Linked DNA regions of Homo sapiens. The main gene of each other region encodes a partner of the protein of the gene in region 2 in a complex. Each region holds a gene or a part of one and is shown on either strand. Other genes may lie near its edges.

Region 1 (3,822 bases), on a different chromosome or scaffold from region 2:
AACATTCTGACTCTAATGTAAATAGTTGTATGATTTGCTTTATAAATATCAGTGTTTACAGTGGAGAAGAGCTGAGAGGAGGAAAGATGCAAGTCCATGACAGAAATTTCGGGTGGACAGGAAATAGTGGTGTAATTATCCTGGATTTTTATTTTTAGATTGTTTAGGAATTTATAGTTAAATCTAATATATTGATATATTTTCTTGTATTTTTTTGTTTGCTCTAGTAAGTTTTTAAATTTTTTTCTTCCACTAATCTTACACATTGAAAGCTATAGGGAAGATTGGGCTAGATCCCATGCATATTGATATGGGATGGATGGACTGTCCACTTTGTGACCCTCCCTTCCCCTAACCAACTTGCGAATGTATAAACAGTTCTCCACCTCCCCCAGTACACCATCTAAGAGTCTCCTCTATGATCCTCTCTTCTGTGCATCATCCAAGTTTATTTTCAGTTTCCTTAAAGTTAAGTAATCATTTAGTGGATACTTGTGAAGAAATCGGAGTGTAGAATGCTTCTTGATATTCATAAACTGATTCCTCCCCTTAAAAATTTACATTACTAAATCATTGAGGTAAGATAAAAATGGAATGATGGTTTATAACACATCCTGAATATCAATAATAGAAATAATATTTAATCTTTAAGAGTTTTTGTTGTGCCTTATTGTTGTTTACTTAAAAATTTAATTTGTTTAAAGGAAGAAAATAATTGTGACAGTTGATACTAGCATAGAAGTAGTTATTCATTGTACAGATATTTGTAGAGCACCTGCTCTGTAGCACTGGATCTATAGTGTTATAGCACTGGATCTGTATGCAGAGGTTGTTAGAATGTGAGCTACATGCTAAAACGTAAAAGTTTTAATTAACTGTAGTTGAAATAGGTGCTGGAATATTAGAAATATGTATTAAGATAGTAAAAATATTTTAAAACTGAGACGAAGGATATTATGCTAGAATTTTCTCTAAAATGATATAATTGACCCTCCTTGACCTTTTATTTAAAAAGGCCCAAACTTTTCAGTTCTCAGTGATAACAGTAAGACTTGATTTATGTGCCAAAAACTATTCTTTGGTCAGTGTTTTTAAATTAACATAATAAGCAATAATTAAGCTATTTGCCATGTAGTTAAAATTTGGGAAACACTGGGTGGGTCTAACCTTTAAGGAAATCTGTTTTTTTGCCGGGTGCGATGTCTCACGCCTATAGTCCCAGCACTTTGGGAGGCTGAGACGGGCAGATCATCTGAGGTCAGGAGTTCGAGACCAGCCTGACCAACATGGAGAAACCCCGTCTCTACTAAAAATACAAAATCAGCCAGGCGTGGTGGGCATGCCTGTAATCCCAGCTACTCGGGAAGCTGAGGCAGGAGAATCGTTTGAACCTGGGAGGCGGAGGTTGCAGTGAGCCGAGATCGTGCCATTGCATTCCGGCCTGGGCAACGAGCGAAACTCTGTCTCAAAAAAAAAAAAAAAAAGAAAAGAAAATCTGCTTTTTTTTAAATTAGATATTAGACATGGAGCTAACTGCTTTGGTAAATCTAACACAATGTCTAAACAGAACAGAAAGCAAATCCTAGTTAATTTTGAGGGGAATATCTCTTTCTGTTTTACATAGGTATCTTTAGGTGGTGTTGATCTTACAGTCCGGGTGCTCACGACAGGATATTGGCCCACTCAGTCAGCCACACCAAAGTGCAACATCCCACCAGCACCAAGACATGCTTTTGAGATATTCAGAAGGTAAATCAAAATCAGACTTTGTATCACTGTGTACAAGTAAGTGTTCAAAATTAAAAATGAATTTGAACATTAGTATCCGTAATTGAGGATGAATGTATTCCATTTATTACCTCGTGATCAAAAGGAGCATTTATCCTGGCATACAGCAATTTCCCCCTCTATAGGATCTTGATGAGTAAAGTAAAGCAGGCATAATTTATCTCTAGAAAGATTGTTTATATGCTGGCATTTGAAATGCCTTTTATTTAGAGCAGCAGTAAAAATGGAAAAAGAGAAAGTAAATGATGATGGAAAACTAGACCCAGAGAATTCCTTGGACTTTTCTGAACACTTCAGCTAACTCCAATTGTTGGAAATACGTGGATACCTTATTCCCACTAGTACTCAGAGTCTCTGAGATGGCAGTTTTGATGAGGAAGAGGAGCAAGATGAAAAAAAAACAAGAGTGATATGCAAGAAAAAAACAGAGAAAGATCCAAGCAAATATTTTTTTTGGGCTGCTGAAAATAATTGGCTTATCCAGTGTGGAGACTGCTTTGTGAAAAGACCACTCGTGTGAACACTAGGGATGAAGATGAGTGTATCACCCCCTTCATCGAGCAGCCTAAGGTGGACACTTAGACATTGTCTGTGAGCTGATTGCACAAGGGGCAGAAGTTTTTGCAGTGACCGTAGATAGCTGGACACCCCTGCAGGGTGCTTATAAGTGGAATAATACCAGAGTGGCTTCTTTATTTCTTCAGCATGGTGTAGATTAGTTATCAGTGACCAAACAAAAGGTCTCTTGACCCACTTGCATCTTGCTGCTGGGATCAGAGACAGCAGAGCTACTCTAGAACATCTACTGGTGAACTGTTAACCTCAAACCAGATCTGAAAAAACAACTGGGAAGAAACTGTATTTGATATTGCCAGGAGGACAAGTATCTGTCACGACCTCTTTGAAATTGTGGAAGGCACTGTACAAATTCTTCACCTTAGTCTTAATGATTCTAGTAATTGTCTTAAGTGTCCAAGTACCAGTGCCTTCTTTGTGTGAGATGTAAAATATTCCCATAGTAAAAGGTTGACATCAAACATCTTACTACAAAAAATTCATTGGTACTTATTAAGATGTTCTTCCAGGTGAATTGCCTGACCTTGATGTCAAAATGTATTTGAAAGTTGTTTGAATATATCTTGAATGATTTCTGTGGAGTTTGTGATTTGTATCAGAAATAATTTCGACTTGCCTACACTTAAAAACTTGACGTGGGTTGTACAGAAACTAAAGATATTTTTGGTGCTGATCCAGGAGATACGTATTTTTAAATAGCCCATATCCTGGATCTTTGTTGAGTATTCAGCATATTGACATGTATCTTTGTAAGGTGAAGTAACTAAGAATTTAACTTAAAAAGCCTCGAACATTCTGGTGCTATTCCTGCTGTCTTCTCTACATTACCATAGCCAGTTGCTTTCATTTTGAACCAGAAGCACTAGCATATTATTGACTTGTAGCTTCATAAATTAAAAAAATAAAAACTAGATTTTGTCTTTTAGAACATAGGCCATTTTCCAGGAAAGCAGCTAGGTTTTAATCCATTAATCTTGTATACTGTCTCCACCACCACAATTCACATAATCCTGTAGACAGTCCTGCTTCACCCTGGTCAACTGCATGATCCTTATTGTAATAGTGAATCAGTATAACACTTTAGACATGCACACAGATAACACGCTGTTGCAAGAGTTCATGATATGTCTGCTGTCCAACTAGTTTTATTTGCCTGATCCTACTGGTTTAGGCACTGCCTATAGTCTCGAGTTCACAGAAATGTTGGGTTTTTTCCCTCCCCAAAGTCCTCATTTTTTATAAACTGTAGAAAGGCAAAATGACAAGGGAAAAGGAATTCTAAGAGTGAAGGGATGATTGTTATATTGGGGCAAGAACCACAGAGTGGCTCAGGCTTTGGAAAAAATATGGTGTGGATAGTGACAAAAAACATAAATATAAAAATTCAAGAAAAACTACCAGTTTTGAACAACAAAAACAAAGGGAGAGTTTATCCTTTATAATTTTAATATGTAAGAA
Region 2 (3,822 bases):
TAAATCCCCAAAACAGGACACATTTGGATATGGTGGAAGGAATTTCTGTCACCTATCTGGATGCTACGTTAGCATGTGGATTTCTGTCCTTTGGGAAGTTCCCATGGCTGCTGCGGCCTCACAGGGTCTTCTTCAGGCTTGTTAGCCAGGGTTGAAGAGCTCTGTCCTGCCCATATGGTACCACAAAGGAGTGGTAGTTTATTTCACCATGTCAAATAAAACGGCAGGTCTACTACCATAATGTGGCTTAAAGTCCTAAGAGCCAGGTTACACCTTTTCTGTAAGTCCTGGGCTCCATAGAGTCACACAGACCAAATGCAGAAATAGATTTCCTTGGCTAAGAGGTAACTTGGAGACATCTGCTTTGGAGAGTAGAGGGAAGGAAAGGCACCCCTCTGCTTGACTGTCCCCCATTGTCTGTCTTCCCACAACCACAGTTTTATTTTTTCTTTTCTTTTTTTTTTTTTTATTTTAGAGACTGGGTCTCACTCTGTCACCCAGCCTGGGGTGCAGGGGAGCAGTCATAGCTCACTGCAGCCTCAAACCCCTGGCTCAAGCAATCCTCCTGTCTCAGCCTCCCAAGTAACTGGGACTACAGGTACATGCCACCACAACCAGCTAATTTTTTTATTTTCATTTTTAGAGAAGGGGTCTTGCTGTGTTGACCAGGCCTATCTTGAACACCCAGGCTCAAGTGATCCTCCTGCCTCAGCCTCCCAAGCAACTGGGACTACAGGTACATGACACCACATCCAGCTAATTTTTTTCATTTTTAGAGAAGGTGTCTTGCTATGTTGCCCAGGCCTGTCCTCAACTCTCAGCCTCAAGCAATCCTCCTGCCTCAGCCTCCCAAAGTGCTGGATTACAGTCATGAGCCACTGTATCCCACCAACAACTACATTGTTCTCTATCACTGTAACCTGAGACAATTCCCTACCAAAAAGAGCAGTATAAAACTTGCTGGCAAGCAGGGCATGGTGACTTATGCCTGTAATCCCAGCACTTTGAGAGGCCAAGGCAGAACAATCACTTAGCCCAGGAATTCAAGACCAGCCTAGGCAACACAGGGAGACCTTGTCTCCACAAAAAATAAGCTTGTGGAGAAATTTTTTTAATTTCCAAATTATTAACAATAAAATGCCTACCAAAAAAGTGAAAAACACATATATACATTTTAATAAATAGTGGAACCAGGCCGGGCACGGTGGCTCACACCTGTAATCCCAGCACCTTGGGAGGCTAAGGCAGGTGGATCACCTGAGGTCAGGAGTTACAGACCAGCCTGGCCAACATGGTGAAACCCCATCTCTACTAAAAATACAAAAATTAGCGGGGCATGGTGGTGCAGCCTGTAATCCCAGCTACTTGGGGGGCTGAGGCAGGAGGACTGCTTGAACCCAGGAGGCAGAGATTGCAGTGAGCCGAGATCACGCCACTGCACTCCAGCCTGGGTGACAGAAGGAGACTCCATCTCAAAAAATAAATAAATAAATAAACAAATAAATAGATAGTACAACCACCTCCCACTGCTGGTCAGGAAAGAGCTCTCTTGTATTCATGTCCTTGCTCCTCCTGTGATATGTGAACAGTGTCCTAAAGCTGGGTTTCTGGAACCTCTACCTGATGTGTGTGTGCTCACAAAGAGAGAAAATGAGAACTAATCTGCAAGGATGCTCTGGTACTAAATTCCATAATGGTGGATGGGGGCAGGTTTGGTGTATGTTTGGGATAAGGATGGGAGTTCCCAGATAATCTTCTCCAAAGAGCTACCCAACCTCAGAGAGCGACCCCCACAAACCAGGCCCAGCCAAATCACAAGACGGCTGACCAAAAAGCTGGGTTTCCAGAAGCAAAAAAAAAGAGATAACATTTTTTTTTCACAGCTCTCCCTTCCCCATTCGATTTTCATGCTCACACAAAGTTATCAAAAGATCCCTCCTGTCCCAATCATCCCTGCCATATGGAACTCTCTTCCTTCCAGATGTGTAAGTGTACACTATTAAAGCATAACATGACACTCGGATATGTCGGGGCTTCCTCTGACACCCTCTTGCCCTTCCCAGACTGCTGACGCCTACACATGGGCAGACCACCTACCTGGTCCCTTCACTTACCTCTGGTAGTGTATCCTCCAATGACATAAATTTTTCCCTTACACTCACAGGCAGAGAACTCAGCCAGAGGATTGGGTAAGGGCGCCACAAAATTCCACGCATCCTGCTCGGGGTTGTAACACTCAACGTTAGAAACGGCCTGCCCTCCGATGGCATAGAGTTTTGAATTAACAGCCACAAGTTTGAAGTTAGACCTGAAAGAGAGACACAAAGGCCCACAGAGTTAGTTCTTCTGATCAATGAAAAGTGTAACAATGGCATGAACTACTAGACTCTCCTGAACATCTGAAGAAAATTCGCTCTCCCAGTTGGGGGCCATTCCGCCTGAGGACAGAGGAGGAAAGGATGGCTTCTCGAATCTCACTCCTGTCCCCAAGATTCCACGGGAATGGCACACTGTCCAAACACTAGCTATCGAAGATAAGCAGTTCAATACAACAAGTTATTAATCTTGTTCAGCCTTAGTCCAGCAACCAAAGACAATGTGTATACACTAAACTCCACACTTTCTTTCAGGGGCAGGCACAAGGGTAAGAGGGGAAGGCACCCACATCACCCCATTGTCTTTCACCTCTCAGAATGGGTATTTCATTCTTCCTACTGAGTAGTATGGCTTCATCTTAGGGACACACTGGTGCTGTCGAGACAGGCAGGTGCGAGGAGTGACTGCTAAAGGGTAGGTCAGGAGATCCTTGCACAACGAGTATACCTGAGCAAGACACTGGTCCTGCCTCCCGCCTCCAAGGGCATCTAACATACTGCTTCACAACATGTAAGATGGGGAGAGGTCAGCACTGAACAAATTCACAGTTTGTATTTATTTATTTACTAATTTATTTATGAAACAGGGTCTTGCTCTGTCACCCAGGCTAGACTGCAGTGGCACAGTCATAGCTTACTGCAGCCTTGAACTCCTGGGCTCAAGAGAGTCTCCTGCCTCAGCCTCTCGAGTAACTTGGACTACAGGTATGTATCATCATATTCAGCTATACTCAGCTAATTTTTTATAAACAGTTTTTTGTGGAGATGGCATCTCACTATGTTGTCCAAGATGATCTTGAACTCCTGGCCTCAAGTGATCCTCTTGCTTCAGCCTCCCAAAGTGCTAGGGTTATAGTTATAAGACACCACAACCAGCCTCAAAATATTTTGATCCAGCATTCTTAGGGTCTTTACATATGTTAATTCAACAAATACTTCTATTGACAAATGCTCATCTTTCATAAAAATAATAACTTGAAAAAGAGATGGACAATGGTTTCCAGCTCTATATTCAGAAAATAATTAAATGCTGCTTATCAGCTTCAGACACTAAATAAGTCTTATGATTTTTGAACTGAATAGTAACACAAAATTAATTTGTTTCGATATAGCACACAAAAGGCAGGAAGGATAAACTCTTGGGAGTGTTGGGTCAGTCTGCTGTGAGGTGTGCAACAGTCACAAGTTTACAAGAGGATGAGCAGCAGCATGATGCAACAGAAAAAAACCTGAGCACAAATCAGAAGACCTCGCTTCTAGTCCCAGCTCTGCTGATAACCAGCTATCTGACCCTGGTCCAACCACCTCACTTCCTCATCTGTAAAATGGGGTAACAGCCATCACAAGGTGGTAGAGATGATTAAATCAAATAGTCTATCAGAAACTACTACACAGAGATAAAATACTATCATTCAAATTTCTGTTTTCTAGTGTTTGAAATAAAGGT

What was found.
Region 1: KLHL42 (region 2) and CUL3 share a complex: the UniProt entries of both Homo sapiens proteins name them as parts of the BCR(KLHL42) E3 ubiquitin ligase complex.

What each region holds. Positions count from the first base shown.
Region 1 is NC_000002.12:224,498,290-224,502,111, reverse strand, and holds part of CUL3 (cullin-3), read left to right. Parts: intron 1-1,624; coding exon 1,625-1,749; intron 1,750-1,894; exon of another isoform or gene 1,895-2,932; intron 2,933-3,822. UniProt on the Homo sapiens protein: Core component of multiple cullin-RING-based BCR (BTB-CUL3-RBX1) E3 ubiquitin-protein ligase complexes which mediate the ubiquitination and subsequent proteasomal degradation of target proteins.
Region 2 is NC_000012.12:27,790,194-27,794,015, reverse strand, and holds part of KLHL42 (kelch-like protein 42), read right to left. Parts: intron 2,309-3,822; coding exon 2,115-2,308; intron 1-2,114. UniProt on the Homo sapiens protein: Substrate-specific adapter of a BCR (BTB-CUL3-RBX1) E3 ubiquitin-protein ligase complex required for mitotic progression and cytokinesis. The BCR(KLHL42) E3 ubiquitin ligase complex mediates the ubiquitination and subsequent degradation of KATNA1.